4 linked regions of the Homo sapiens genome follow. The protein of the gene in region 4 purifies or fractionates together with the protein of the main gene of each other region. This does not show direct contact. Each region holds a gene or a part of one and is shown on either strand. Other genes may lie near its edges. The genes, in order: KLHL15, NEDD1, CLTCL1 and C10orf88.

Region 1 (8,373 bases), on a different chromosome or scaffold from region 4:
GACCGTGGCTCACTGCAACCTCGACCTCCTGGGCTCAAGCAATCCCTCCCACCTCAAACTCCCCAGTAGCTGGGACTCCAGGCATGTGCCCCCACACCCAAATAATTTTTACATTTTTTGTAGAGATAGGTTTGCCTACTTTGCCTAGGCTGTTCCCCAACTCCTGGGCTCAAATAATCCTCCTGCCTAGGATTCCCAAAGTGCTGGGATTATAGGCGTAAACCACCCTTCCTAGCCCTTCGGCTATGTTTTGCTCATGTAAACACCTTAGAATTTTTACAACTCTGTAACATACACTTGCCCTTAGGCTATGTTTTGTTAATGCAAACAGCTTAGAATTTTCATAGCTCTTTAACAACTTCAGAATGACCCAAGCTAGGCCACAGGTTAACAGCATGCTTCCTGCACTTTAGGGTCTTCTCCCTATTCTATTAGCTGTAACAGGAAGTCCCAGATTGGGAAGCAGCTGCCCTGGCTTTCAGTCTGGACAGTGCCACTTGGTCTGGAATAAGATCCTTAACCTTTCTGTGCCTGTTTCCTTATCTATAAAATGGGGATAACATGTAGATGCATGGCCAGGCGCGGTGGCTCACCCCTGTAATCCCAGCATTTTGGGAGGCCGAGGCAGGCGGATCACGAGGTCAGGAGATCAAGACCATCCTGGCTAACACAGTGAAACCCCGTCTCTACTAAAAAAAAAAAATGCAAAAAAATTAGCCGGGCGTGGTGGCGGGTGCCTGTAGTCCCAGCTACTCAGGAGGCTGAGGCAGGAGAATGGCGTGAACCTGAGAGGCAGAGCTTGCAGTGAGCCTAGATCGTGCCACCGCACTCCAGCCTGGGCAACAGAGTGAGACTCCGTCTCAAAAAAAACCAAAAAAAAAAAAACAAAAAAAAACCATGTAGATGCTACCTATATGTACGGTAAGAGCACTTAGTACATGACCTAGCATAAATATATGTGTGTGTGTGTGTGTGTGTGTGTGTGTGTGCTCGTGTGCACATGCAGTGTTCAGATAAACAGTATTGCTGCCTCTAAGGAACTCAGGAAATTTGGAAGCCTTGGCCTCTTCGATGATGGTCCCACAGAATACTTAGTACAAAAATTAAGACAATCTGGCCAGGCACGGTGGCTCACATCTATAATCCCAGCACTCTGGGAGGCCGAGGCACGAGGATCACTTCAGGCCAGCTCAAGACCAGCCTGGACAACAGTGAGACCCTATCTCTACAAAAAAAAGTTAAATATTAAAAAAGAAAAAAGTATACTAAAAAAAAAAAAAAAGTTAAGACAATCTTATCTTCACCTAAGGAGAAAATCCAGTAGAGGACTACATAGATACTGCAGAAGGATAAACCCAAAGATTTCAGCACAGCTAGAGGACATGACTTGTGTCCCTAGAACGAATGGGGGCTTTTCCTTGGGTTGAGGCAGAATGCCCCCTTCCCTACACTATTAAGTCACTGTTCAAATCTGTTACTACCAAAGGAAGAATTAAGAATCTCCACACACAAAAAATTAGCCAGGCATGGTGGTGGGTAACTGTAATCCCAGCTACTCGGGAGGCTGAGGCATGAGAATTGCTGGAACCCAGGAGGTGGAGGCTGCAGTGAGCTGAGATCGCAGCACTGCACTCCAGGGCCAGAGTGAGACTCCTCTCAAAACAAAACAAAACAAACAAAAACAAAACAAAACAGGATTCCCCAGGGAAAAAGAGCAATAAAAACAATAGGAAAAAAATCAAAACATCAGAGACAAATGATTTACATAATTGATGTGGGGCTGATTATCACTAAACAAAAAATAAAAGAAATACATTATTGGCTGGGTGGGGTGGCTCACGCCTGTAATCCCAGCACTTTGGGAGGCCAAGGCGGGTGGATCATGAGGTCAGGAGTTCGAGACCAGCCTGGCCAAGATGATGAAACCCTGTCTCTACTAAAACACAAAAATTAGCCAGGCACAGTGGCTGACGCCTGTAATCCCAGCTACTCGGGAGGCTGAGGCAAGAGAATCGCTTGAACCTGGGAGGCAGAGTTTGCAGCGAGCCAAGATCACGCCACTGTACTCTAGCCTGGGCGACAGAGCGAGACTCTGTCTCAAAAAAAAAAAAAAAAATACATACATACATATATATAATTTAGTTTCAATTATTTCTGCCACATCAATACATTGAGAATAAAAGACAAAAATCCACAAAACTGAATTCTCAGTTTCACAGCATTTTGGAGGAAAAAAAAATATGTCAGGCTGCTGTTATTCAAAGGCGCAAATGGGTTTATTTTTCAAATGGCGTAGACAACCCTCCTTTGCAGATACTGTATTTTTATAACCAGGTCTAATAACTAAAGCTGAGGAACTATTTAACATGAAAAGTGACCGACCAAGTTTTCAGTGTGCTTTCTAGAAAAAAGAGAAGATGCAAGAAGTAAACAGAGCCCCAGAGGTAACCATGTGATTAGAAACCAATTAAGTTAAGCAATTACTAAAAGTGCTCTATGACCTTTGGGCAAGAAAGGATCACAAGTGAAACTCTGATATAAAAATGAAAATGCTTACATGCAAAAAAAGGCCAAGGCTGTTTCAGAGAAAGACTATTTTTAAGAGAACTATTTGCATGGTAAAATGTGCCCAGGGATGGTTGATCAATGTAGATAGAAGAGTTATAGTCTACTTGTTTAGAAATGCCAAAATGATGTTTTTAGACATATAACATGTTTTCATTGTCAAATTTAGTTAGTATTCACAGTAAAACGGGGAAAACCAGAAGGTAAGAGCAGGGAAGAAAATCACCATTAGGGCCTATTGGTTTTCAAGAGCTATTTTGTACGTCCTTGCTATATTTTAGAGGAATAAGAAACTCTATTAATGTATACCATGCAGAACTCTTCTCAATGCCAATTTCTGCATGTATTACTTAAATTTATTTTTAAAAAGAGATCTAGCCTGACTCGGTTCCGATTTAATTGATGAAATGAAAAGAAAAGCTACAGCAAACATGTAATATTTTGCATAAAGTAATTATGCTTCAACTTTAAAAGTACTTTTAAAATAAAACTGTTTTACTACCTACGTGGTTTATCTTTCACCCACAAAATGTATTTTACAAAACCTAAATGCACAACAAATCAGGCTTCTTATACATAAAGTACTCTTATGTTATTCATTCTTGAATAACATAAGAAATAACAAAATGAAGTTATTCATTCTTGGCTCTTAAGTCTGTGAATCTTATCTATAAAGACATACACTGCCTTAACTAAATGATGAGTACTGTCTATTGCTTTCAAATGCACTAACCTTCTCAAAAACGCTGGTTGGGGTCATCAAGCAAAACCGGATATTCTGAATGATGGTATCGGTATGTCTCCAGCGTCTTCTATCATGCCGCAGCCAAGACTGCACAGCCTCGTACAGCTCTATCTCTGGGAACCTGCTCAGATGATCATTATCCAAGTAAGACATGAGCTTCTCAAAGCTCAGATAGGACAGAAAGTCAGGCCTAGACATGAGTGGCACAAAGTTGTCTAGCAGAAAGGTGTCTAACTTCTCCCTGACTCCCTCGATGTTTACGCCGAAATCATCTAAGAGTCTCATAATTTCTGCACAATTTTCTAGGCAGATCTTCGCTAAGAGAAAAGAGCAGCAGAACTTCACCACTTCTATAAGTTGAACATACATGGCAGCCTGAAGAATCTCATGAACGGTATTCATACTCAGCTCTATAGTTCCATAGTACATAAATTGCAGGACATGGCTGAAACCGGTAGCTGTTAGACCTTTTAAATGAATTTTGTCCTGATCTCGTTCCCTCATGTCTGCAGTAAACATAATTCTGAAGTAATCACTCTGGGTGGCCAAGAGTGCTTTATGGGCCTGGAACTGATGATCTTCAATAACCAGAGTGACATCAAGAAGCAATCCCTCCTCATACAGTGCTCTGAACCCAGCAGAGACACTGGTGTCGTGGATGGAGGAACAGAATCCTTCCACGTCCCCTGCCATGAATCACCTGGAAAAAAATCAAAGACAACAATGTTAAACACTTCCATGCATTCAGAAGAAAATATTAACTTAGAGTTTTAACAATTTTTGCTATTATCTCAATTCTACTGACTAAGTCCAAAATGTACAAGTCCTTTGGGAGAAGACAATCTAAAGGTTTGCAGACTAATATTTCTGGCTTCCCTATCTAAGGAAAAGAATCTATTAAAGATACATCAATAGTTCATGCCTATAACCCCAGCACTTTGGGAGGCCAAGGCAGGAAGATCGCTTGAGCCCAGGAGTTGGAGACCAGCCTAGGCAAGATGGCAAATCCCTGTCTCTACAAAATAATAACAATAAAAAAAAAAGTAGCTGGGCATGGTGGCACATTGCCAGCAGCCCCAGCTTCTTCAGAGGCTGAGGTGGGAGATTCCCTTCAGCCCACGAGTTTGAGGCTACAGTGAGCTATGATAGCACCACTGCACTCCAGCCTGGGCAACAGAGCACGACCCTATCTCTTAAAAATATATATGTCGGCTGGGCGCGGTGGCTCACACCTGTAATCCCAGCACTTTGGGAGGCCGAAGTGGGTGGATCACCTGAGGTCAGGAGTTCAAGACCAGCCTGATCAATACGATGAAACTCCAACTCTACTAAAAATACAAAAAGTAGCCAGGTGTGGTGGCATGCACCTATAGTCCCAGCTACTCAGGAGGCCAAGACAGGAGAATCGCTTGAACTCGGGAGACGGAGGTTGCAGTGAGCCAAGATCATGCCACTACATGCCAGCCTGGGAGACAGCAAGACCCCATTTCCAAAAAAAAAAAAAAAAAATATATATATATATATATATATATATATCAAACAATGGTAAATTGTTATCTTACAAATAATATATGCCTATTCCATTGATTTCATATTGTTCATCAAATATACTTTGAACAGGTTCCAAAATTAGCAACATAAAAATGATTTCACAGCCAAATACTAAATAATGAGAAAAGGGACAAAAATGAAACTAAAAAGTATACCTGAAAACTCCTAGAAATTTACCTAAAGGAAATATTCAAATAAATAGGCAAGTTGTACATATAAGGTTTTTCTATCTAGGCTTATTATTTAAAAATCAGAAACTATTCAAAAGTCCAATAACAAATTATTAAAACATGATACAGTCCTACAATAAATTATCAATTTAAAATGATGTCAACAGTTTATTTTTACAAAGAATATTTATCAGATATTGTATGAAAAAAAAAACAAGTGACTGCAGTATACTGAGTACGTCTTCGAAAACTAAATACGCATATATTTGTTAGATGAGAAAAAGTCTGGAGAAATATATACCAAAATAATGTCCCTGGGTAGTAGGTTTTCAGGAGAGGCTTTCTTTTCATTTACCTCATTACCCTTACTTTGAAAAACAATAATGATGTAATGCTTATATATTTAAAAATACAAATATATAATTTTAAAGGAAATTAAACCAAATCTTTCCATATCAGAGAAATGAAGGTAAAATAGAGAACTATAATTAGATATCTTAAATACAGCGGAATAAACTAATTCAGTCTATTTTTTTGTTTTCGGAGTCTTGCTCTGTCATCCAGGCTGGAGTGCAGTGGCACAATCTCGGCTCACTACAACCTCCGCCTCCCGGGTTCAAGCGATTCTTGTGCCTCAGCCTCCCGAGTAGCTGGGACTACAGGCACCTGCTACACGCCCAGCTAATTTTTGTATTTTTAGTGAAGACAGGTTTCGCCATGTTGGCTAGGCTGGTCTAAAACTCCTGACCTCAGATGATCCGTCTGACTCGGCCTTCCAAAGTGGTGGGGTTACAGGCGTGAGCCACTGCGCCTGGCCACTAATTCAGTCTACTGGGTTATTTATGAAGCAAATTAATTTTCTCCTTTTCACATACCCCCACCCCAGACCATCTATCTTCTTAATTCTCATCCTTACACAGCTCCCGGCTTCCTCCCCAATGACCCATCCTCCATCCCTGAATTCTCTCCCAAACCTTTCCACTGTGCCCTGTGGAACCTTACTTCAATGTAAACAAAATCCCCTACATGCTCAGGTTGGTCACAGAAAGTTCCCTCCTCGACCTGATTTAAATGAGACATAGTTTTCCTAAAAGTCACAGCTTCCAGGCCTCCTGCCTCCAACCTCTAGCTCTACTCCCACGCGTGTTAGAAAAAAAAAAAACAAAACAAAAAAAAAACTTTTAGAGCTTACAGCCCTACTTTCCAAGTCTTCTTTCTCTTAGCTTTCTATTGTTCTTTTTCTATAACTTGGCCTTTTGCTCAGATAAAAATCCATCTTCTGTCACCCCTTGTCACTTCCATACACATCTTCTGATCAATCACTCTCAAACATTTGATGAAGACTTCAACACCTGGGCCAGGCATGGTGGCTCACACCTGTAATCCCAGCACTTTGGGAGGCTGAGGCAGGCGGATCACTTGAGATCAGGAGTTCAAGACCAGCCTGGGCAACATGGTAAAACCCTGTCTCTACTAAAAATACAAAAATTAAAGGCCGGGCGTGGTGGCTCATGCCTGTAATCCCAACACTTTGGGAGGCCGAGATGGGTGGATCACCTGAAGGTCAGGAGTTTGAGACCAGCCTGGCCAACATGGTGAAACCCCATCTCTACTAAAAATATAAAAATTAACCAGGCATGGTGGCGGGCATCTGTAATCCCAGCTACTCGGGAGGCTGAGGCAGGAGAATCACTTGAACCCGGGAGGCGGAGGTTGCAGTGAGCTGAGATTGCACCACTGCACTCCAGCCTGGGCGACAAGAGTGAAACTCCGTCTCAAAATAAATAAAATAAAATACAAAACAAATACAAAAATTAGCCGCACATGGTAGCGGGCGCCTGTAGTCCTAGCTACTCCGGAGGCTGAGACAGGAGAAATCTCCTGAACCCAGCAGGTGGAGGTCACAGTGAGCCAAGACTGCACCACTGCACTCCAGCCTGGGCGACAGAGCGAGGTTCCATTTTCAAAAAAAAAAAAAAAAAAAAAAGCCGGGCTCAGTGGCTCACGCCCGTAATTCCAACACTTTGGGAGGCTGAGGAGGGTGTATCACCTGAGGTCAGGAGTTCAAGACCAGCCTGGCCAACATGGAGAAACCTCCTCTCTACTAAAAATACCAAAATTAGCTGGGTGTGGTGGCTGGCACATGTAATCCCAGCTACTTGGGAGGCTGAGGCAGGAGAATCGCTGGAACCTGGGAGACGGAGGCTGCAGTGAGCCAAGATCGCACCACTGCACTCCAGCCTGGGCAACAGAGCAAGACTCCATCTCAAAAAAAAAAAAAAAAAAAGACTTCAACACCTGGCTAAGTCATCTTTCACACCTCTTCAATGTTCACATAAGATCAGCCATCCAAAAACTGTAAGTCAAAACTCCCTGACCATCTCAACTCCTACAACCTCCCCACTTATTCCATTGCAAACCCTACTCCCACCCCACTTGGACCTGTTCCTGATCCAAAACTGGTCTACATCTGAAATCTTAACTGTCAACTTCCTACTTAACCTTCCTACTCTCTTTTCACTTGGTCTATCATCTCCTAACTTAACCTCTGTCCTTCTCCAGCTTAGACCTTACCATATCAGAGCAACCACTTTCTTACCAGGGCCTTCATTTCCCTTAACTCTCTGCCTGTCCTCCATCCCTGCCCTGCTAAACAAAAACTATGCCAACTGGTCCTTTAATCTTGGGCCAATCTTCAGTGCCTCTTGGCAGTTTCGTCCACCGAACAGTTGTGAGGCATTCCCTGCTGGTATAACACTGAAGCACTATCAAAGATGTTCCCAAACTAAGGACAGCAGATATGGACAAATCTCTGGGATACTACAGCCATTTTTAAGCACTTTCTAGAATATCTCATGACTTGGAATCATATGTTGCAGCTATTTTCTAGAACATGACCTACAAACCACACTAGCCTAAAAGAGCACTAAGGATGTGGCAGCCAACATCTACGGCTCTGAATTTCCACCAGTGACACTGCTGGGACCCAATCTCCCAAGTTCTGTCCTTCCCCTGGTTAGGTATTTATATGGACCCCGAGCCCTCCAGAGAAGCAGCGGACACTACAGTCAACTGCTGTCACTTGCTCTACACCTCCTTCTTTAGGGAGGCTGTCACTGCCAGTGTCACCACTCTGTCAATGCCTTCCCATTTCATTTACTAAAAGGAAGAGCCCTTGTGTGTGCCAGGTACTGTGTTAGGTATGGAGATGAGTGCCATTTGGGAATCCCTCTGTACTCTGGGTTTGGCTGAGCCCTCAGTTGCCAAGAAGGAAAAGGTGGCATCTATGTACACACTAAAAAGACGCCACTTCTCCACTCTCATGAATAAACTATCACTAGA
Region 2 (8,373 bases), on a different chromosome or scaffold from region 4:
AATACATTTTATCTGATTTTCACAATAACCCTAACAGTTAAATGTCATCTTAAATGTGTACAGGAAAAAAATGAGACCCAGAAAGGTTAAGAGAATTGCCTAAAAGCATCCTGGCCGGAAGTGACAGATCTGAGACTGAGTCTACTATTCTCAATGTTTCAGAGGCAAAGAAAAATGTGTGTGTGTGTGAGAGAGAGAGAGAGAATGAGAGACAGAGAGAGGAAGAGAAAGAGAATGATGAAGCAAATGTGGCAAAATTTATAAAGTGCATCTGCCAAAGGGTAATGCTCAGGAGTTATCTGTACTATTCTTAAAACTTTTCTGTAAGATGACAATCATTTCAAAATACAATTAATACACAAACATTGTTAATTTTGTGGGGGCAGAGCACTCACTTTGCCAGAAATGTTGGGAATCTACCAAGAGTTATCGTTAATCCATGACCCTGAAAGATCCAAGCCTTTGATTTGCAAATTAATGCTGTCTTTGTTAAACAAGAGCCTTCTTACTATAAAACTAAATGAATAATGGAGAGACTTCAGAGAGTTTACAGTGAATGAGAGAATCTTTATTTTGTTTAATTTTTGAAAATTTTGAAAAAAGATAATTTTCATAATATAGTTAATTCAACATGTTGGCAGACATTACTCAAAGTTATATTTCAAAAATAATTTCTTCCTTAAGTAGATATCAGTTGTCTTTGTCTCCAGGAGTTCCTAAATAAGAACTTAATTATTTTCCTAATATATAATGGCTCTTATATAAGGATGATACAGATATTCACAGGAAATTTATAGTGAATATACTTACTTTAAAATACTACTCCACACTATCAAGATCAACAAATTAAAGTTTTGCTTCTACTTGGAAATAGCAAAATCATGCTAAAAAAAAACACCAATAAATATTTTTGCCCAAGTATTTATCCTGAAAAATTTAAAAGACATGGATATATGTATTTCTACTAAGCACAATATTTCAGAAACATACTAGTATACCATGTAGACTTTCTAAAGTATTTGTTGCACGTTGACAGTATAGCATAACTTCTTAAAATAAAAATGAAAAGGTTTTCAGGAATTTACAGAATATTTTTTTATTGTGAGCAAGAAATATTTTCTACAATAAGAGAAAGCTTATCATATAACACATCAATAAAGTCTAAATGAATCCTGTTTCAGAACTGTTTCGCCAATTACATGAGAGAAGAAGAAATCATTAGAAATTGCAACATTCTCATTTATTTTTATTTAATGAGATCAAATCATAAGACAGTGTCAAAGTTTCATATTTTCTACTGGTTAATCTGAAGACACAATGAAAAGCCATTCAGTCTTTAGTAGTATTAAGGATGAATAATTTCTGAGTTAGCCTCCTTCCATTTTTAAGACAATATTTCTCACAAGAGAAGTTTAGCTAAACAATAAGGGCCTTTTATCATTTTTGAAATTAATAGCCAAAGTTACTATTTTCACTTCTTCAATGATTTTCACTTCTACTAATTTTACCTAAGTACTCAAATAAATTTGAGTTCTATGTTCTTGAAGAATGTGCTAATTATATGCAAGCCAAAAACAAAAAAACAAAAAAAAAACAAACCAACCCTCCAACAATATATAAGCAACATTTACCTGCTTTTTCTTGAACAGCAACTGTTCCTTTCCCCATAGCTGATGTCATAGGTTGTGGTAGAACTGTGGCAATGGACGTGGCAGGTGCTTCTCTGACAATTCCGGAATTCTGAACTCCTCCACTAGCAGCATTCACATTAACACTTCGTTTGTTCACTGTTGTGGGCTTATTTGAACAGCCTTTATTTAAACTTGACTGAAATGTAATGGAATATTTAAAAGCTCAGGTTACTAATGTTTCATACTATACATTAATATTTTATAAATTCCCTGTTAGATTAAAAAATATATTTTTTTCCTTGCAAATCTTAAGCTTGCTGGCAGACCTGAGTTTCCCTCTAAATTAAAATGTCTTTTAAAATACTTTTAAAAAGAGAGATATATAAGGAGAAAAAAAAAAGAAAAAAAGTTTTAAAACTAAATATCAAATGGCTTTGTACTAAAATTATTATACATTACATGTAAAATCATTATGTAATTATGAAACAAAACTATACTGTTTAATTGACCACATATAATTTCCATATTCTGAGTTAGATTTATTTAATAAAATAAAAAATGCTGAAAAGAAAATGTCTCACCTTAGTAAGAACAGTGGAGTACTGAAATGCTATACACTGCACAGATGTCTTGTGAGCACTGATGGTCTTAACTGGTGATTTCAACATTCTTAAATCATATTGATATATTTTCCCCCGGGAAGATCCAATAGCCAAAGTGGCTCCATCAGGCATGAAATCTACCGCAGTTAGAGGAGTGTCAGCCACTAAAGTTTTCACTAGCCTTTGGAAAGGAGAACAAAGTATGTGTAGAAATGTTAGTGTGTACAGGTATATTAGCTTATATAAGTAACTATATACCAAAACCAGAGTTATTAACACTTCAAACTGGTCAAAGAGCACACATATCCCAAATATTTGTTTAAAGCATAATTTCAGAATTTGACTTAGAGACATTTCTAATAAAATGGCATATAGAGAACTGCTAAACATTCCATCTTACTTTTCTATTCACTTCCAATAGGTACATTCTGCATCTTATAGAAGCAGCACCTATTTCTTTAATTATTACTCTGACAGTGAATGTAGCAGAACTGTCTATTACGCCACAAACAGGGGCTCTGGCCTCATGGTTGAGGAGGGCCTAAGTATCCACTTTCCATTTATTGACCTGCTTAGGCCTCATGAGGACTATGACCTTTCACAGGGGAGCAGCTGTTACTTTGTTCTTAGTTGTACAGTCTTGGCCAAAAAGCTAAGAGGAACACAGTTCACATGCTTGATCCTTAGGAAGCTAATAAAGAAATACGGATGGTGATCTGCTGAAGCTGAGCTCTTTACTGGTGTGTATAGTAGAAAAGAAGAATGGCTTACTGGGCTCTCAGTAAATTGTTCCATAAAAGAAGACAGCAAATAAGTCCTAACAGTAAAAATTCTAGCATCATAATAAAGGCTGACAGTGGGACCTTCCCTTGTAGTAACATTCATACTCCACATGATCTACAGACAGTGGTAAGCATCTTGAATACAACTGTATCACTCTTGCATTCTTTTGTTTTTGTTTTTGTTTTTTAGCTAACTAAGCATACCTAAATTTAACAAGAAGAGGGTACAGTGGGCCCAAATGCTTAGAGGATTATGTACACCAGTACATAATCAGTATTTCTCAAGTGGGTGCTCCCAGGTTGTCCCTGGTTACTACCAGGGGACATCTGACAATGTCTGGACACAATTTAGGCCATTGGTATTTAGTAAGCAGAGGCCAGGGATGCTGATGAATATCCTACAATACCCAGGACAGCCCCTCACAACAAAGAATTACCCAGCCCAAAATGTCAATCGTTTCTAAACCTTCCTCTAGATAATTAATCAGTTTTAAAGCAAATTAATCATTTGGGTTAAAAACATATGCATTTTATCATATTGTGGAAAAGATGCTAAAATTAAAATGTGAAATCATTAAGATGTCATCTCTCTATGTTCATGTTTCAGAAGTACCCTAAATACTACCTGCAACCCATCTATTTCTTTCTGCATAAGAAGAAAATTCTTTCTTACTAGATCCATCAACTGTACAAACTTTAGGACCCCTGGACACTAATCAGAGGTCTATATAAATCACAAATATGCCTGTTAATGGAATAATAGCTATTTGTTACTAAATTAAGAAATAAGCATGTCACACTTACTTCTTACTTGAAGTGTCATAGAGGATGATTCTTTTATCCAAGCCTATGGTTACAAAGAGCAATTCATTGACAGGAGAAAAACAGATGCCTGACGCTGGAGCTTTGTGTACACTGTCAAAGTTATGGTATGGACTCTGACTATTTACATCCCAGAGAGTTACTATTCCATTATCCGAAACACTGCCCAGTAGTGATTTCTTAAACAAGGAGTACTTCAAGTGCCGAACAGACTATAAAAATGAAAGAATAAATTTTATGTAATTATAAGCATTCATAAGGACATTTGATATAAGCCATATAAATTATGGCCAACCACACTATTCACATGGGGTTTAGGATTTCTCTGATGTGTAAGAGTGACAGGTTTCAGCCAGACGTGGTGGCTCACGCCTGTAATCCCAGCACTTTGGGAGGCCGAGGCAGGTGGATCATCTGAGGTCAGGCGTTCAAGACCAGCCTGCCCAACCTAGTGAAACCCCATCTTTATTAAAAATACAAAAATTAGCTGGGCATGGTGGCAGGCGCCTGTAATTACAGCTACTTGGGAGGCTGAGGCAAGAGAACCACTTGAACCTAGGAGGTGGAGGCTGCAGTGAGCCAAGATCACACTATTGTACTCCAGCCTGGGCGACAGAGTGAGACTCTGTCTTAAAAACAAAACAAAACAAAACAAAAAAACCCAACTCTGTCTTAAAAAAAAAAAAGAAAAGAAAAGAAAAGAAAGGGTAACAAATTTCAATCATGACAACCACGGTGTCATTCAGTGGACCATAAGATGACATACCAATACCTGAAACATACCAATCAATAGCCTATTAATATTTGTCATTTTATTATCTTGGAGTATAGCTACCTCAATCTTCTCCTTTCAGAGGAAAAATATAATACATTGAGATTATCTACATTAATTCATCAGGGTTAGAACATCCACCATATATAAAAGGCCTTGTCACAGTCAAATCAACAAGTATAAGGGAATACTGGGAGAAAAAAAAAAAGCAATAATATTTTGTATTTGTTTTCTATATTTTAGATATTTTGATACATTTGTTTGAATCTGAGCATCTGATGCACTGACAATTCAACACCTGAAGCATAATTTAAAAAAAAATTAAACCACAAAGGAAAAACTGGCAACACTCTAGACTGGGGATGGACTATATCCATTGTTTCAAAACCATTAGCCTGAGGGCAATGCTGGCCTTTCTCTAAACACAAATCCCTGCAGGTAGTGGAGATATTCTCTCTTCCTAGCTTCCATGGACCAGAATAAACAAAGATCTAGTTTGAATAAACTGATCTTAGACTAAAACTAACTGAATTTTATCTACTTTTCTTTTTTACTAAAATGTTACTGTCAAACTTGTATTGATGTTGTCATTTACTAGGCGGAAAATTAAGTACTTTACATTTAAGCTAATTTTTCCCTATGAATTTATATTCTACTTAATTCTAAAATGTCTCAAATAATATATATTAGCTCTCAACAACAACAAAAAATGTCTAGGAAATACAGAAACCAAATGCTAAGAAAAAAAAACAAAAAGGAGTTATTAGTCACCTGGCACCTAAGTTAAGACAATTAATATGTTAACCCATTAAATTTGCCCATTTTCATATGGCTAAAGTACAAAGAGAAAATGTTGGTTTATATAATTTTTATTTTTGTTGGGAAAAAGTATATCCACTTGAATAGTCAAATCTTTTCTCTGGTCCATATTCAAGAAAAAATAAACTACATGAATGTTAACTATATAAAAGACACAGACCTACTTAGTGCATTATGTTAATGATTACAGAGTCATACACAACATATCAAAATATAAGGCAAAACATGATTTCTAAAAAGATTTCTACAGCACTTTAGGAGTTCATATAGTTATCGTCCTTCACATGATCTAAATTTAGACTAAATACACAAGTAGAATTTTTAAAAACACCATAAAAATCACAGACCTGGTAGATTCTCGAAGTTCATAAAGTTTAACCTCTTAGCAACAGCAGGAATTTTCCTACAACATCCTTAAAACATGGTTATCCAGAATCTGTTTGCATCTATCAAACAACAAGGAGCTTACCACTGTCTTTAACACAACTTGATAACCAGTTAAAAATGTATTCTTGATCAAGACAAAACCTAAATTCTGTATCTTACTTCAAGTTCTTGGGACCTACATGGCAGACTATTTAAAAAAAAAAAAAAAAAGGCTAAAGATAATGATAAATGTTCCCTTCAGATAAACCTAAGTTCAGTGGACGCTCAGCAAACCTCTGTATGATTTAGGTGAATTACTTAAACTCTCCAAAACTCAGCGTTCTCATCTACATAATAGAAAACACTCTTGTTTTCCTGACACAATTATTTTGAGGATTAAATAGCATTTCTGTACAGAATCAGGTACACAGTAGCCATCACCATTTCCAGAAGTTCATAACTTACTTGCTCATCATTGCTTATGTACCCACCATTCAACCATCTTTTACATATTTTTTAAAAGACCCTTAAGTAACCACATTGAATTCTTTAAATGTCTCCAATTATTTCTGTGATAATACTAACAGAATTTCATTTCTTAACTTTCTATATCTGTTAAATCTTCTCTTTAGAATATCATTAAGATATTAGCTAAGAATCCTGGATAAACAAAACACTGATTTACTAAATTATATATATATAATTTATATATATAAATATATTTACTTGTGTGTGTGCATTTTATATATATATATATATATATATATTTTTTTTTTTTTTTTTTTTTTAAGAGACAGGATTTTGCCATTTTGCCCAGGCTGGTCTCAAACTCCTGGACTCAAGCACTCCACCTGCCTCAGCTTCCCAAAGTGCTGGGATTACAGGTGTGAGCCACCGCACCTGGCCTCCAAATTATATTTAAAATAAATATTAACTTATTTCAGTATCAGCAGCACTTAAGTCATTAACTCCCTATCTTGTTCCAGACTAAATTATTTATAAGAAAAGAATTAAATCAAGAAGCTTATGGGGGGGAAAAAATCCCGGCAGTATAAGCAGCAATGCTATTTTTTCTTATACCACATTATTGTGTAAGAATGTTGCATGTTTGTGGAGGAGGGAGATTGTTTCTAAATATAAAAAACATACCACTCACTAAAGGTGGGGGGAAGGTTTCAAAAACTTATTTAGAAGTAGTTACAGACAATATATAGATGAAAAGCATGGCTGTGTTCCAATAAACTTTACAAAAATAAGTTGGCTAGACCATAGGTTATAGTTTTTCAGTCTCTACTAAGATAATTATTTAATAGAAAAAAATTTTTTTTATCACAAAGAAGAAAAACCATCCATAATCCCACTACCCAGAGAAAAAGTGGTTGACATTTTGAGGGGGTATCCTTTAAGTATTTTTCTGTGTGTATGTATGCTTCTGTGTATTCAGTAGAGTATCAACAGAAAACCTGGAATCATACTTCATTATAAACAGCCATGTCAATGTTTTCTACTTGATTTTAATAGCTGTTTAAGATATGAATGCATGAGTATACTAATTTACCTAAATAATATCATGTTAGACATTTGGGTTACTTCTGATTTGCAAGTACTCTGATTACTATCCTTTTTTAAAACTGTTAATTTATGAAAAAAATTGTAATTCATTGATGTTCATGCCTTAAAGGTTCTCAGTTGAAAATATGAAATGACTATTTGTCTTTCTTCTTTTGCAAACTGCTCATTATTCTACTTTGCCTATTTTCTATTGGGCTATGAAGATTTTTAAAATACTAATTTGCAACTGCTCTTACATTGCAACTGCTCTCATACATTGTAAATACCTTCCCTATTTCATTTAAATTTTGTGAATTTTTGCCTTGCTTTTTGTCAGAAGTTTTAAATTTTTATATATTTATATTTATCAAACTTGTTGCCAGTGACTTATAACTATACTTCTTTATATTTATGCTTAGAAAAGCCTTCCCTTTGCACAGATAAGAACATACATTCACATCATTTTCTTACTAGGCACTATAAAGCAGTAAGAAATTAATACAAACATCTTAACATACATATGAACATACACACATATATATGGCCATAAATATAGTGTTCCTTTGACTCCATCCTATCTTCTTGATTCCCAGGGCCTTACATCAAGCACAAATCATCTGTCACCTAAGCCACTACATAGTTATCCCATTTCCATTCTCAGTGGCTTACTATCCATCCTGCACTCTGTTGCAGTAACTAACATCTTCAAACCTGAAAAATCTCAACATATTTGTCTTTTGCTTAAAATCCTTTCAATGGGAGGTCTCTGAGAAGTTACTGGTTATGGTGGTGGCAGAGTTTCTGAATGACCGTCAATACTGTGAGTGCATGTGTACGTGTGTGTGCATGTATGTGTGTGTATGTGTATGTAGAAAAGCAGGCCTGAGACTGTCTATCTTTAAAAAGTCCCACACTCAGGGTTGGTCCTTGGCTAGCATCTGCGAACTTGGGTTTTGGAAGGGGTCCCACTGCCTTAACTCGTAAGAGTGGCTCACTCACTCTGCCTAAACTTATTTGTGATAGATATG
Region 3 (6,120 bases), on a different chromosome or scaffold from region 4:
CACGGCAGGGAGACAGATGAGCGGGCGTCACAGGTCCTCAAAGCGGAGACCCAAAGGCACCTGGAGCTCTCACCTGAGGGTCAGAATCCTGGTGCCTTTGTAGGAACAGTGTGGGTCAGGAGGCAGCGATCGATGAGCAGCATGCCAGCGGGGGAGACTTCTTTCCGGAGCCAGCTCAGCACATCGGGTCCATGCAGATGTGGGCACTGGGCGTCCTCAGGGGTCTCCCAAACGGAACTCAGAGGTGTGTGCTGCAGGCGATGGCAGGCATGCAGAGCTGGGACCGCCACAGGGTATCCCTGGAGAGCACAGGTCACAGTCAGTGGATCATGGCCAACTCCAGGTGGAGTGGCCCTGGGCAAGTGACTACATCTGGGTCTCAGGTTCCTGGTCTCTGAATGGGGTACTAATAGCCCCTGCCATAGAAGGAATCAGGTGATCCAGTGCCTGCTGTGGAGCTAGAAAATAGAGAATGGCCACAGAAAGTGCAGGCTTCTTCAGGACTGGTCAGGTGCAGGTGTTATTTTGTCAATGATATTGTCTTAGACAAATACATTTGCAAGGATGAAAATAGCAGTTAGGGGTTTTTGAGCCACTTGAAAGAAAAACACATTGCTGTTTCTAGAGCAGTAGCCGTACCCCTCCTAACTGCTCCCCTGGTGTCACACGCTCCATGGACCTGAGTGCAGCACCTCTGCAGCAGCCCCACAACCCCCAAACTCCCATCAGTGCCTTCCTCAGAGCAGCCTGTGCACGCCCTCTGCCCTCGGGGCTAGAGTTCCTGTCTCCCAGGGCACCTGCGCCTCCGTGAGCCACCTGTCCCCTCCAGAGCCTCCGGAGGTGGCATCTCCGTTTCACCAGTGGGCAGCAGGGCATAGGGAATGGCCCAGCCATGGGTCCAGGCTTGCTCCACAGCGCAGGAAGTCCTTGGTGGAGTCTAGTGCCACTCCCTGCCCTCCGGCCCAGCTGCTGCAGGCACAAAGCCTCTGCCTGCAGGATGCCCAAGCAAGCATTTGCCTTGGCTGCAGGATGCCATGCAGCATGCTGCAGAGTCGCGGGATGCTGAGCTGGCCCAGAAGTTGCTGCAGTGGTTCCTGGAGGAAGGCAAGAGGGAGTGCTTCGCAGCTTGTCTCTTCACCTGCTATGACCTGCTTCGCCCAGACATGGTGCTTGAGCTGGCCTGGAGGCACAACCTCGTGGACTTGGCCATGCCCTACTTCATCCAGGTGATGAGGGAGTACCTGAGCAAGGTAGGTGCCGGGCCGGCTGCAGCTCCCCGGCCCCTGTGTGGCATGACCCAACCCTGGCAGTGACTCTGGCCGCAGGTCTTAAGGGTGGGCCCCTTTGAGGCCAACCCAGATTCCCCAGCCAGCCCTGGCTGCCTTCAGGAGTGGCTGCTTTCCTTCATGCTGAAGTGGTTTTCTGCCCAACGTTAAGCCCCTCCAGAAAATCATCATGGGGAGTGCCCACTGGCAGCAGCCCTCCTGTAGACTCTGGCTGGGCAGCTGTCCCAATGTGCACACTGCTAGGAGCACAACAGGCGTGCTCATCCCCAGCCCTGGACTTCAACAAGGTGACAGTGAGGTGGCTGGCAATCCCAGCTCCCTGAGGAGCTCCCAGTGGCGTCTGGGGGTGCAGCTGTTAGCATACGGTTGGTGGTAGCTGCCTTTTGCTGAACACATAGTAGGAGTATTCACAGATCCACTGAATCCTTCTAACAGCTATAGGGAGGATGACTCTCTGCCTCATCGAAGTGACAGTACTTGATTGTAAAACTCTCCCTGGGTGTTGAAGTCCTAGGAGTCCCTGCTGGGATCTAGCTTTAGCCACTGTCCAGAGACCTGTGTCAGCAGTGTCATCTGGTACAGTTTGTTGTTTCTAACACTGGAAAAGCTACTTCCAGTAGCATCTACTTGCCTATCTAACCTCCTTCAAGCCAGATGGAGAGCCTCGGAAGGCACTCATGCTGAAGCATCACTCAGTGGAGCGAGGGAAGGGAGGGGCCTCCCAGGTGAGTGGGAGGTAGGAAGGAAACAGGAAGGCGGGCTCATGCTGCCAGCTTTAGCCTGGAGGGCTGCCTGCCGCCTGCAGAGCCTCCAGGGGGCTGCCCAGCCCCTGATAAAGGCCATCCCAGAGTCCATTCAAGGCCGTTGCCCTCCTGTAGGACAGTGTGACCCCATCCCATCTGCATAGCATGCCTGAGTGAGACTCCCTGATGACTCTCAAGGGTTGGGGAGGAAGGGACAGCCCTGGCTACGTGGCCTGAGATTCGTGGGCTGCCAGGGGACATGGACTGGTTGGATTGACAAGGGCCCTGGTTCCCCCACCACAGTGGATGGCAACTCCCTACAGGCGGCACGTGTGGTATGTGGTTTGTGGTATGCAGTGTGTGGTGTGCGGTGTCTGGTGCGTGCCTGTGGAAGCTGCTGTCACCATGATGAGCAGGTTTTCCCATCCCTCGGGTGTCTTTCCTGAAAGTAGTCTGTGTTCTGAGAACCAGCACAAGGAAAGAAAGTGCTTGAATCTCTTCCTGGCAGTAGAGGCCCGTGGGTTAGTGTCAGAGGAACTCAGGCTCACCAGGCCCTAGGGAGTGTCATTGCTGTGGGGGTCAAAGTGCTTGTGGGGATCCCCCAGGACTTTGAGGCGCACATTCCCTTTCTGTTGCGGATGATGGAGTTAGCAGCCACTATCACGTTGGTCCACACTGTGGCTGCACAGCCTTGGCCCAGGGTTCCCAGACTCCACTGGCCCTGGGAGGTGGTGGCTGCTGGAGCACCTTCTCTGCTGCCACCCACCTATTCCTGCTGGGGCAGATGAGACGCCTGTCATGGGGAGAGTTCAAGGAGAGGAGGGGGCTGGCAAGGGGTTTCCCAGTCAGTGGCATGGGGGTGTGAGCTGATTGTCAGCTTGAGCTGGTGCTCAGCTGACACCACACAGCAGTGCTGGGAGAATGAGGGCGCGGACAAGAAGCACAGTCCTTTCCTGGTGGACAGCTGGGCCTGGGGCCTCGTGGCTCATCTGGGAAGCTTGAGGGCCATCCCTCTGAGACGCCCCCAGCGCTCTCCCATTGTAGGGAGGGTACAGGCCTAGCTCAGCCCTCACCCTAGGTGTCAGCAAGTGTGCCCCCTGCTTCCTCCTCATTTCTCAGCCCCCCCCAGACCCCAGCTCATGGGGGGCACATTCTTATTTCTCTTTCTTACTCAGTGTGTTTGTGAGGGGATCCTAGCTGCACAGTTGCTGCCGCCCCTCTAGTGCAGTGCTGCCGCCTCGCTCTCTGGCAGTGGGTGGGGTCAGTGCCTGGTGAAGCCTCAGGGAAGAGTGAGGAGGCAGTTTGTCCTCAGTGCTTCTCAGGTGAAGTGTCTAGGTGCCAGGTGACTTGTCTCTGAGAGCCACATGATCTCTCTGCTGGTTTGGAGGGGCGGGCAAACTAGACTGGCCAGAGCCAGAAGCAGACAGTGTTCCCTGCACATGGCCCCAGCCCTGCAGGTCGGTAAGTGGCAGTGTCCCTGTATCCAGAGGAGGACTTGGCCCCCCATAAGCAGGCCACATGCACAGCCTGTAACAACTGACTGCCCCAGTGCCCACTGGGAAGCTCTGGGGGCCCCACCTGGCGTTCCATCTCAGCCCAGCTACCGAGGCTTCACCTCTCCATGCCTTGCTGCATTCTAAAAGTGCATGGGGTGTGGGCTGAGCCACTCCACATCTGCCCATGTGCACCTCCTCCACTGTCATTCTCCTGGAGGCCCTGTGTCCTGACCTTCCACTCCACTTTCACCTAGAGGCCGGACTGCACTCTGTCAAGCGGGTGCTCACGTGCTTTTGCCTCCTTGCAGGTGGACAAACTGGATGCCTTGGAGAGTCTGCGCAAGCAAGAGGAGCATGTGACAGAGCCTGCCCCTCTCGTGTTTGGTAGGTGGCACCTGTAGCCCCCAACCCCCTGGGGAGGGAGCAGGGAGGGAGTCAAAGTCCCACTGCCCTTACCTGGCTGGGCTTTGGATGGGGATGGGAATAGATGGGTGGGGGCTGGAAGGATCCCAGTGGCTACTGGGTGTGGAGAAGTGTACGCCCAGGAATGTTGGCACGGCCGCTGTCCTCCCTGCTGTAAGGATGCCTGCCTTCTGATAGGGGTGCCTGCCTAGCTGTGAACTACTGCTGTGTCCTGCTGGGCCTGGCCCCTGGACAGCAAGGCTGCTGCTGGTGTGTGCTGGGAGGGGCTTTGCACCTGAGAACCTGCCCAGGGCAGCCTGGCTGTCGAGCAGACTGGAGAGGCTGTGGGGTGCTTGGACACTGTGGGGCAAACACAGGCCTGAGGGTGTGGTGTGAGTGTGCAGCACGCCGGCGGGTCTCCAGCGTCCGGCTGAGTGTGTCCTTCCACCATTAATGTCATTCTGGTTTTTTTAGATTTTGATGGGCATGAATGAGACCCAGCTGATTGCACTAAGTAAGTGTCCCATTTGGAGACTAGCTTATCCTCTAGCCAGGCCAGGTTCTCTGGCTGACCCCACGCTCCTTGCCTCTGGATGCCTGCTCTCTTGGGGCCTCAGCGTCTGGGTGGTAAGGGCTGGTCCTATAGACCCTGCTCCCTGGGCCCCGGGCTACTCAGGGGCAGCCAGGAGAGGACCCCCATGGGCAGGAAGAGCTCTGCTCATTGTGGGCTTCCCCCTCTGCAGGCCCTGCCGTGGGCCCAGCCCCTGCCAGCTTCCCCTATGGATATGCCTCTGCTCCCAACTTCGCCAGCCTCCAATGTACAACTTCCGCGTGTAGTGGGCGTTGTCACCACCCACCCTACCTGCAGAGTTACTAACTTCTCCAAGGAGCATGTCACTCCAGCAGCACAGGGGACGCAATGGGAGGCAGGGACACCTGGACAATATTTATTTTTGCTGAAACCCAATGACGGCAACCTCTGAGCCATCCCAGAGCCTGGGGAGGCCAGGGTAGAGGCTGACGGCGCAAGACCAGCTTTAGCCGACAACAGAGACTGGACTGTGGGCCCTCCTGCTGGAGCCAGGCCTTCCTCCTGGGCGCCTCCGACTGGCTGGAGCTGCCCCCTCCAGGCCAGTTTGAAGACTACATGAACACGTCTTGTTTGGAGGTACCGGACCTCATAAAAGGACTCTCAGCCTCTTGGCAATCATAAATATTAAAGTCGGTTTATCCAGGCAAAGGTGCTCTGCTTGGTGCTGGTATGGGTAGGAGGGACGGGCCAGTTTCCTAGGCCCCGCAGTCCATTAAAGATTTGCTGGGTCCTCTTTGGGGTGTGGGACCTCCGTTGCCCAGACAAGCTGCCTAGGAGAATACAGCCGCTTGCATTTGTGGTCTTTCCTGACCTTGTTCGCTGAGCGCAGAAACTACAACCGGGAAAGGTGTGGGTGGGAACCGGCAGGTGAGGCCCGGCCCGTGGCTGCTGCGGGAGGGGGGCCCGGCGGCGTAGCCCCTTCTCACCGGCCTCCCGCCTCCCGCCTCCAGGTTTGAAACGTTAGAGTTCCTCTGGGACTGGGCTAGCCCCACGTGTTTTCGGGGAGGGTGTGCCCCTGGCCTCCGGGATCCCTGGGGATCCCGCCGCTCTCGACAGTCGCGCAGACCCGAGGCCCGCTATCCCGCGGCGCGGCACACAGTGCACCTTGACCCACTGCTCGGAGCTGGGCCACGGCTCCGCCTCCCGCAGCCCCGCCCCCGTCCCGCCGCTCGCGGTCGCCCAGGGACTCGGCCTCGGCCATTGGCTGCGCTTTGGCCCCGCCCCTACGCCTGCCTCGGCGCGCCCCGCCCAGGCCTCAGTTTCCCGGCCCGCACGGGGCGGGCTGGGGGCGGGGCCTGGCTCGGACCACGCGGGGCGGGACCTGGAGCTGACGCGGCCGCCCCGCCCCTGGGACCATAACCGGCCGCCGCCGCCACCGCGGACCGAGCGCGGAGTTCTGGAGTCTCGGACCCGAAGCCGCCACAGGGCGCCCCGCCTCCCGCCCGCCATGCCCGCGCCCCGCGCCCCGCGCGCTCTGGCGGCCGCCGCGCCCGCGTCCGGGAAGGCCAAGCTGACGCACCCGGGGAAGGCGATCCTGGCAGGTGGGCCCCTCCGGGACGCGGACCCCTCTCCCGCCGCGCTTCTGGGTGGGCCCGGGACGC
Region 4 (9,296 bases):
AAACACTCTTATTAACCTCCTACCTCTCAACCTCTCTATTATCCCCCTTTCTCTTTTTAACCCCATAGCCTTTTTCACCATTAAATATAGTATTTATTTTACTCATTGAGTCTCCTTATTGTCTGTCTTGCCCACTAGAATACAAGCAACATAAGTTCAGGCATTTCAGTTTATTTTCTTATTGCTAATTCCTAAATGACTGGTATAGTACCTGACATTAAGAGGCACTCAAATCTTTGTTGAATGAAGAAATTACTTTATTCAAATGGTTTTAGAAGCTATTTAATATATACTATCCAAAACAACATCTTGGGATAATCAGTCCTGTGAGTTTGCTATCTGCCTGTAAAAATCACTTATTTTTTCTTATTGTAAAAATAGGTTTCAATCTTCTATAAGTAATGATAATAAGTACAGAAGTTTAGAGATAAAAAGAATCCAAGAATTTTCTTCAGCTCTCTAATTTTACCCATGAGATAGGTCCAAAATCTGCCCAAGACTAATCCACTAGTCAGGACAGAACTGAATTAGCATTCAGGGCTTAAGACTTCCAATCCATTACCTTATCCCTAGACTCTGAAGACATAACTAACAGTTACCTTAACAATATTTTTCATGCTGAAGACAACAGTCCAATCCCTTTAACTTATTGGTTCTCTTGCTTGAAACTTCTCTAATTTTGTTCTTTTATAAATGGGTTTTTGCCATCACAGTTTATATAGTTTTTAAAAATGTTTTTTGCTCAATTTCCCAACACTTCAAAATACACAGCACTACCATATTAACAATACATTATCCAAGGTTAATAAATAGTCAAATTTTATTTTTATTATTTTTTTAGTGAGATGGGGTTTCACTCTGTTGCCCAGGTTGGTCTTGAACTCCTGGGCTTGAGCAATCCTCCCACCTCAGCCTCCTGAGTAACTGGGATTATAAACATGTACCACTGCACGTGGCTCATGGTTAAATTTTAAGAGAAAAAGTCTACTCACTGGTCACCGGGTGAAAAATTTAAAAAAAAAAAAATTTCTTAATTCAATGTTAAAAAGGGCTGATAATTTTTTAGAAAAGTAATTTCTTTGTACATGTTTACTAAGTATTTCTGAGCCTCATCTCTACTAAAAATTTAAAAAATTTGCCAGGCATGGTGGTGTATGCCTGTAGTCCCAGCTACTTGGGAGGCTGAGGTAGGAAGTTAGCTTGAGCTGGGAGATGACGTTGCAGTGAGCCATGATTGTCCCACTGCACTCCAGCCTGGGCAACAGAGCAAGATACTGTCTTGAAAAGAAAAAAAAAAGCAAGCAAGCAAGTTGGACTAATTGTATTACTAATCCAAAAGAAAACAAGCATACACAGAGTACAAAAACAACTTAGTTGTCAAATTAGTTTACAACTGACAACTTACCTTTATTTTACAAGCATGTGTGGAGGACTCCAATTTTAGATTTTTTTTATACAAAATGATCTTTTCATGTTCACTAAAAATAAAAAAGAATTAATTTTTTTTACTTACATATATTGTCACTTTTAATAGTTACACTTAAAAATAAATGTTTCCAGAACAATATTGAAATCCTAAGATTCAGTTTTCCTGGTGAGGCATGAAGAGTTGGGCTCCATAACTGAAGCACACTGCCTATGATTACATCTACCACTTACTAGGCTCAATGAGAAAATTACATTATATAACATATGTACAACCATGTAGCCAGACTGTATTTTAAAGCTCAATAAACACAGCAATTGTTTCCAACATGCAGGATATAAAACAGTTCATATTTTGTGTTAAAGACAGATTGGAGAAAAATCTTCGTAAGAAAAAAAATCACAAGTTGCGTTACAGGTTAATAAATAGGTTTATGTAGCACAGTCTTAGATCCCTCCACCATTTCTAATAGGCTTCCAAGAAGAAAATGTATTCAAAGTTCCAGACTGACTACCAAATTAACTTTCGGAAGACAGACTGCTGTGAGTTTAAGGAAAGAGACACACTTCTCAAAATTTCATTCTAATAAAACTCTTCCACTAACTAGCTATGACCTCCTACCAATTCACCTTGATTGTTAGTTCTAAATTTCAACATTTATAAAAATAACTAGGCTGATCTACACTGTCTTTTAAGATCTCTAAAGTTGTAAACTTCTATGCCTACTGGCACATTTTTATCTTCTCTCCCATAACATATGGTATCAATATCAGAGAATCAATAATTATTGCAAAAAGTGAGAAAAATCAAAACACTACTTCAGAAGAACACTTTCCCGTGTACAAGTCACACACCTGTCATCCAGGACAGTACAAACATTCTTGCCCCTACTGGTTCCACAGTACTCCTCTCCTAAGTACACTTCCATATTTCTTGCTGAACTTAAAATGCCAATAGAAGCGATTTCTTCACCTCCATCAGGGCCACACCTCAGGTAAAGGAAGCAGGGGTTTTCATCTTTGTTGTTGTGGTTTCTCTTCAAAATCACCAGATCCTGACTGAGAAGAAAATTGGTGAAAACATCACACAGTATAGTTCTCTGAACATGACTCTTCTTTTTTGAGACGGAGTCTGGCTCTGTCGCCCAGGCTGGAATGCAGTGGCTCCATCTCGGCTCACTGCACGCTCCGCCTTCCGGGTTCACGCCATTCTCCTGCCTCAGCCTCCCAAGCAGCTGGGACTACAGGCACCCGCCACCGCGCCCGGCTAATTTTTTGTATTTTTCGTAGAGACGGGGTTTCGCCGTGTTAGCCAGGATGGTCTTGATCTCCTGACGTCGTGATCCGCCCGCCTCGGCCTCCCAAAGTGCTGGGATTACAGGTGTGAGCCACCGTGCCCGGCCGGGGCTTCTTTCTTCTAACTCACTTCCACTTGCCCTTGAGGTCCAAGCACCTTCCCAAGCATCCAAGAAGCGCTCAACACAGAATTCATACGGAAATGAAGGTGTCACACATCAGGGCTTTCCCAAACTCTATTTTTTCCTCAATCAACATTCTACTCAATCCCCTGCAATTGACTCTCGGATAATTACATAAATCACTGGGCACCTACTGGGTGCAGGGCACAATGAAAGACAAAAGTGTATCTTTTTCGAAATTAAGTCGACAGCGATCATCTATAGCTGGACTTTTTACACAGCCTGTTTTGGTGGACAGGAGGTGTCTTGTTTGAGGGTAGAGGGGCGGACTGACTTTGACAGCAGCCCTGAGGGGCTATCACGCCTGATGGGGACGTTATATGAAATTCCGAGTCCGGGTCACCTTCCCCCTCTCACGCCCAGGAGCCTCGGCCCCTTCCCGGCCGGACCCACCCCCCTCCGCCCACCCCGGACGACCTCGCAGCTCCCCTCCCCAACTAGAGACCTGGTACCAACTGCTCTCCCGGATCCCGGGCTCAGACCCTCTCGCCTCCCCTCACAGCTCCCCTAGAAGCGCGGCAGTTGCCGAGCATAGCGACCCCGTCCCCGTCGGCCCGGCGCACCCTGGAGCAGGCGGTGCCAGCAGCTCCTCCCAGTCGAAGTCACCGGGGCCGAGACCGGCCCGGGTGAGGAGGAGGCTGTGGGTCAGGGCCCCGCCTGCAACATCCCAAGAAGAGGCCAGCGTGGGGCGGCGGGTGAGGCCCCCGTCCTCGGTCCGCGTCTCCATTCCGCCGCCTTCAGTCAGGCCAGCCCAGCCCCGGAACCTCTCTTCCAGTGCTTGAATTTCCGCCGGTACAGCGTGGAAATGGGCAGGCAAAGCGACTTCCGGCTCACTCCGCTTCAAGTACCCGCCGCTTCTTGCTTTGGTGGGGAGAGCAGGCACCAGAGACACGCATGCGCATGTGCCAGCTGGCCTCAGGCGCGGCGTTCAAAGTGTGCGGGGAGGAGGTCGAGAGCGGAGCATGCGCACTGGCAGACCCTTGCTCTTTCGCTGGAGACTATGCGCAGGCGCGGTGCACTGCGCGCCGGCACGAGGGTGTTTTCGACGTTGGCTGTGGGGAAACAGCAAGCGGCGTGGACGACCGTTGCTGAGCTGGTGTGGAACGTCTGTGATCAGGTAGGTGTAGTCTCGTCGCTCTACGCTGCGTGCAAGACCGACTCCTGACCTCGTTCTTTCCCAAGGGGACGCCAGGGCCTTTTCTGCTTCCATTCCGTCGGATCTGCAGCATTTGTGGCAGCTAGCGCGGCGGACGCGCTGCCGATTCGGGTTATTTTTACTTCGAATTCTCCTAGCCTCCCTCACACATATTCTCGCTTTAGAGGGGGGCTGAAGCGGATGATGGGGTTTTGGGGTTGAAGGGCATCTGTGATGGGCATTGAGCCACGCTGGCCTTCGCCGGGTGCTGTCTCAGCTGACGCCCCCTGACCCCATGTGCAACCCTCAGGCCGCAGGAACCCGGGCATCCAGGGCTGGACGCTCTAGGTGACAGAAATTTGAAATGCAAGAAAGACCCAGACACCGAAGGCAGGGGCTGCCCCATGAGATCGCTCCTCATGGCACTGGAAACAGCGAGTGGAAAGGGGGGGTCTCAGAACTCTGTTGAAGTAGAATATGAACTCAGTCTTGAAGGAACTTAAGGCTACGGATGCAGAACAGTGGGAGCAGATGGAACTTTCTAGATGCCCCACGGGATGGGACTGTATATAGTGTGCCCCCTCATCCTCCTCCTGTAGAGGCTTGTGCAGATTATTTTTCTGTCTTTTGAAAAAAGCAAACTCTGAAATTCCACTTGTCTATAATCTAGAGTTCCAAAGTTGTGTTTAAGGTGGTATCCTCTCTAGGAAATAACGTTTTTGCTCACCCATACTCTAATTTTCTTTCAGAGCTGTCTATTCTGGGTTCATGACTCAGTGCGCATTACTTTAATCTTTTTGCTTATGTTTTCGTTTGAGTTTATGTACTAGGACTTGTGCCCTCTAGCTAAAAATGAGAATAAACTTTGCATTCTGTTTACCTGTGTCAAAGCAAGAAAAATGATGACCAAATGTATTTTTCTATAAGTAATCACCAGAATGTACGTATGGTAGGTGAATTCACCAAGATTGAAAGAGAGAAATGTCACCAAAGGTCTATCATAGCAGAATTGTAAAGTCCTCGTTTGCAAAGATTTTTTTAATATTTCAGACTCATTCTAAGTTGTCCTTGTCATTATTTTTGTCCTGTATGTCCTGCTTCCTGTGGTTGTAAGTTAACTTTGATCCACATTAATACATGTGGACAATCCGAAGGAAAATAGGCTCTTCAGAAACTAATCTGCAATTTCATGAGCAATAGCAATATTATAAACTGGATTTTGACTTCCTTAAATAAAGCTGAATGTCCAGGAATCAGAAAACAAAAGATTCCTATGGTCTATCCTTTCCTTTATTTCCATACAGCCAATAAACCACCAAGTCTTCATTTTCTTAAAGAAAAATTTTCCTATCTCTGCTTCTTCTGTTTCCAAGCACTAGCTTTATCTGAACAATTCCAGGAGTTTGTCAGTAGCTTTCATTTTGATTCCTTCCATTTCAGTCTTTGCACTGCCCTCTTCTCCTTCTGGTGATCAATGTTCCTGACTGAATCAACACCTTCACTCCTTAGCATAGCATGCAGAGTCCTTTGTACTTTGAACCCTGCCTACCTTCCAGTTTCCTCTACCTAGAATGCCATTTTTTTCAATAGTAGGAAAAATCCTATTTATCATGCGAAACCAAGCTTACTTCATCCTGCTACAGAATTAAACAAATTCCTCTGTGCTACAATTACCACTTTTTTAGGTAGTATAATTCTCCTTTGATGTCAGACTTTGCCTGTTTATATATCTGTGTTCCCTACTATCTGCATGCTTGCTGAGATAGACATTATGTTGAGTACAGGTTTGTTGTATGGAATTGATAGGTTGGTGACAGCTTTTATCACATAAACTAAGAGCAGCAGAAAAAGGAAAATTAGTACATTCAATCTTAAGCTTTTTTCCAAAGCCAGGATGGTTATGGTTCAAAGCTGACTTCAATCTTAATATGATACATTATTCTTGTCATGAATTACAAGTGAGTTTTTTGCTTTACTTTTCTCTTTGAAGTAAATCAGAAAATATAGTTGGTGATATGGTTGGCTGTGTCCCCACCCAAATGTCATCTTGAATTGTGGCTCCCATAATTCCCACTTGTTGTGGGAGGGACCCCGTGGGAGATAACTGAATGGTGGGGGCAGTTTCCCCCATACTGTTCTCGTGGTAGTGAATAAGTCTTGGGAGATCTGATGGTTTTATAAGGGGAAGCGCCTTTCGCTTCGCTCTCATTCTCTCTTTCCTCTGCCTTGCTCTTCTGCCATGATTGTGAGGCCTCCCCAACCAACCACATGGAACTGTGAGTCCATTAAACCTTGTCTTTATAAATTACCCAGTATCAGGTATGTCTTTATCAGCAGCGTGAAGATGGCTAATACAGTTGGAAATTTCCCACCAGTAATGATATGCAAGAACTCAATATTTAGGAGCATATTTCAAATCTGTTTTCAGAATATGAGCCAACGCACATTTGAAAGGTACATTTTAGAAAAAAGTAACTTAGGATACTAATTTTCTTGAGCACATTCATTTAGTAATGCCACAGTTTAGATGTTTTGACTATCTTAAGTAGATTGAGTTCTTACTATATATGCCCTGCCTTTTACACAGGAGTATACTTCCCAGCAAGGTGGTTATAGGAACTTAACTTCCTTCTCAGGACCACTTGAGTTGTACCTTCTCTCCTCCTTTCCCTCTCTTCTGGTCCTTGCAGGTCCCACAGTTGCCAGGAATTCCTTCTCACCCTGCCTCAATACAGGGCCTGCAATTTTAACAGAGTGGAAAAGAACAACCTTCCTATCTTTTTCTCCCAACTTCATTTATAGCTGCTTTCTACCTCATTTTAACTAGAACCTCTGTTCTAGTTAGAAACATTGTTAGACTGTATATCATTTTCAATACAACCTTTCTGAGGAAATGTAGAAATGCTGCAGAAGCTCTCGAACTAGAGCTGAATCTGTGCCCGCATCCATGATTATCACCTGTATGACGCTTTCTTATCCTAAAACTCTTATGCAATAGTCGATGGCCATACCACCCTGAACATGCCCAATCTTGTCTAAAACTGTTATGCAATAAAGGGTTAACTCAGGAAGTCTGGGAGGTTCAAACCCTGCAGCTTCCAAAGAAGTTGGCTCTTGACCAGCTCTGGGAAGATGACCGCTAACCTATTGGAATGTCCTGCCTGATAAGAGTGTCTTTGTATACCTAGCTAGCTTATATCAACAGTGTGATTTATATAGTAAGGCCACACTTGAGACACACTCTGTCAGTTTGATCTCTGGAGCTCAATTTTAAATAATTATTTAAAATTAAATAAATAATACTCTATACCTATCTAGATACAAAGAAAGGTTTTTCAGGGTGAGGTAGGTGGGAATCACATAACCATATCTTGCTGCTAACTGTGGGCTTTATAACAGAGTTCCTTAACACTTCGGTTTCAGAACCCTTTTACACCTTTATAGCTTTCTAATTAAAAAATCAACAACATTGTTCTTGAGTCTGTAGTAACGTACACTAATAGGAATGAGTACTTAAAGAATGGATTGAAAAGATAACCACTGGGTCCCTCCCACAACAAGTGGGAATTATGGGAGCTACAATTCAAGATGACATTTGGGTGGGGACATAGCCAAACCATATCACCAACTATATTTTATGGTTTATTTAAAAGGGAAAAAGGAAAAATCCACTCCAGCTTCAGGACACCTGGCTTAAAATAAACTTTCTTAATGGACCCATTTCGTAAAAATGGTTTTATCCTGTTTCCTTGGGAACTTGGCAATAACTTAGAGGGTTTTAGAGTCTTAAAGGAAGGTCTGGGTGAATAAACTCTTTTTTTATGTTAACAAAGGAAAATAGCATCCAAGCTAAATCAGCTGTAGGATTTGTTATGTTTCGTTATGCATTCATGGCACTTGCACCTTCAGAAGAAGTAACTCATCAAAAATTCTGCATAATATGCTGTCAACTCATTTGTAATATTGCACGTTTCCTACAGAAATAATCCATCTTTGTGCAGAATGATAGAATTTTGAGGTAAGTTTATTAACATCCCTTCAGGAATATGTTGTACTGTTGGGTTGCAGGTTAAGGGGAAGCCACAGAATCCTTTTTACCAGTTTTACTTTTGATAGCCGTGCTTTTGTATACAACATACTATGATGTAGTGTAAATACACCTGACAGCAATAACTTAAGCATACCCTTAGAATGACCCTCTATGGCAGATGTACCTGAATGTGTGTTCTGAGCTAGGGAATCCAGGGCATGGCCATCTTGGGGATTCGTTTCTTATCTATGATAAACATCTGATGCCCCAGACTTTCCCGTAGAACTTGGGCAGCACAGGAGATTGAGGCCCTGAGTTTTGAGTTAGATGAAGGTTGCCAGGTAGAGGTCATTATGGGGAGATTGTTAAGTGAAAATGCTATATAAACTGCATGCTCTTTGCAGGCAGTTGTAGTTTTCATGCCCAGCCCCTGCCACTGGGCTGTGCAATTATGTTGTCTAGTCTGCCGCCACTGGACTCTCCCATTTGTAAGCCCCTAATAAAACCCATGTCTCGTTTGCTGGCTCTCGGTTTCTTCTTTAGCTTCTTGAACCTGATGCCTTCTCTAGTGAGGTTAATGGGGCTTCTGCACAACATATGAACAGCCAAATGTAAGTTTTATTAATTTTTAATTATATTTTTCTTTACTTATTGTGGACATTTTACTTTCCTCACTTTCTCTCTTCAAATCAAGTATGAGCTTTTTAAATAGCAGCAGCTGTCTTTAGTTACATGTGAATCCCCAGCATTTAATGCATTGTCTGGTACACAAATATAAAGTGAATATTGAATAAGTAACAGCCTTAAAATACAAGGCCCTCTTATTAAACTGTTAAATTGTTTATAATTACTTTATAAATTATAATAATTTATAATTATACATTTATCTTTATAATTACTTTAAACATATAACAGTGGTAGGAAGTAAGAACACAGTGAGGAAGACCAGTGGAAATCTGTGGGAACTGCTTTTTTCCAAAGTTGTGTTGAAAGCTTCAGAAACCAAGGAATTGAAACCTATTTCATCATTGTTTCTAAATAGCAGGGATTGATAATATGCAGATCCTCCATTAGCAGAGATGGATCTTGTAGCTTTGTTCTTTCCTCAGACATTTTGGTGGTTCTTAGGGTTACTGAGATTGATGATTCTTCTAGGTCTACCCGCTTTCAGCGGATTTCATAATTGCTTTTAACCTCACAATACCAGGAACAGAGTAATCTTGGGGAA

Evidence for each region.
Region 1: the proteins of C10orf88 (region 4) and KLHL15 purify together in Homo sapiens (affinity purification with mass spectrometry; 2 studies listed by BioGRID and IntAct, with this or other methods). This does not show direct contact.
Region 2: the proteins of C10orf88 (region 4) and NEDD1 purify together in Homo sapiens (co-immunoprecipitation; 4 studies listed by BioGRID and IntAct, with this or other methods). This does not show direct contact.
Region 3: the proteins of C10orf88 (region 4) and CLTCL1 purify together in Homo sapiens (co-immunoprecipitation; 2 studies listed by BioGRID and IntAct, with this or other methods). This does not show direct contact.

The regions. Positions count from the first base shown.
Region 1 is NC_000023.11:24,002,691-24,011,063, forward strand, and holds part of KLHL15 (kelch-like protein 15), read right to left. Parts: intron 4,011-8,373; 5' UTR 4,004-4,010; coding exon 3,299-4,003; intron 1-3,298. UniProt on the Homo sapiens protein: Substrate-specific adapter for CUL3 E3 ubiquitin-protein ligase complex.
Region 2 is NC_000012.12:96,930,652-96,939,024, reverse strand, and holds part of NEDD1 (protein NEDD1), read right to left. Parts: intron 4,050-8,373; coding exon 3,820-4,049; intron 2,415-3,819; coding exon 2,213-2,414; intron 1,828-2,212; coding exon 1,632-1,827; intron 1-1,631. UniProt on the Homo sapiens protein: Required for mitosis progression. Promotes the nucleation of microtubules from the spindle.
Region 3 is NC_000022.11:19,178,520-19,184,639, reverse strand, and holds the end of CLTCL1 (clathrin heavy chain 2), read left to right. Parts: intron 1-1,028; coding exon 1,029-1,250; intron 1,251-3,833; coding exon 3,834-3,909; intron 3,910-4,401; coding exon 4,402-4,421; 3' UTR 4,422-4,441; intron 4,442-4,670; 3' UTR 4,671-5,167; downstream 5,168-6,120. UniProt on the Homo sapiens protein: Clathrin is the major protein of the polyhedral coat of coated pits and vesicles. Two different adapter protein complexes link the clathrin lattice either to the plasma membrane or to the trans-Golgi network.
Region 4 is NC_000010.11:122,950,549-122,959,844, forward strand, and holds the start of C10orf88 (ATPase PAAT), read right to left. Parts: upstream 3,680-9,296; 5' UTR 3,631-3,679; coding exon 3,467-3,630; intron 2,485-3,466; coding exon 2,281-2,484; intron 1,479-2,280; coding exon 1,406-1,478; intron 1-1,405. UniProt on the Homo sapiens protein: ATPase that regulates mitochondrial ABC transporters ABCB7, ABCB8/MITOSUR and ABCB10. Regulates mitochondrial ferric concentration and heme biosynthesis and plays a role in the maintenance of mitochondrial homeostasis and cell survival.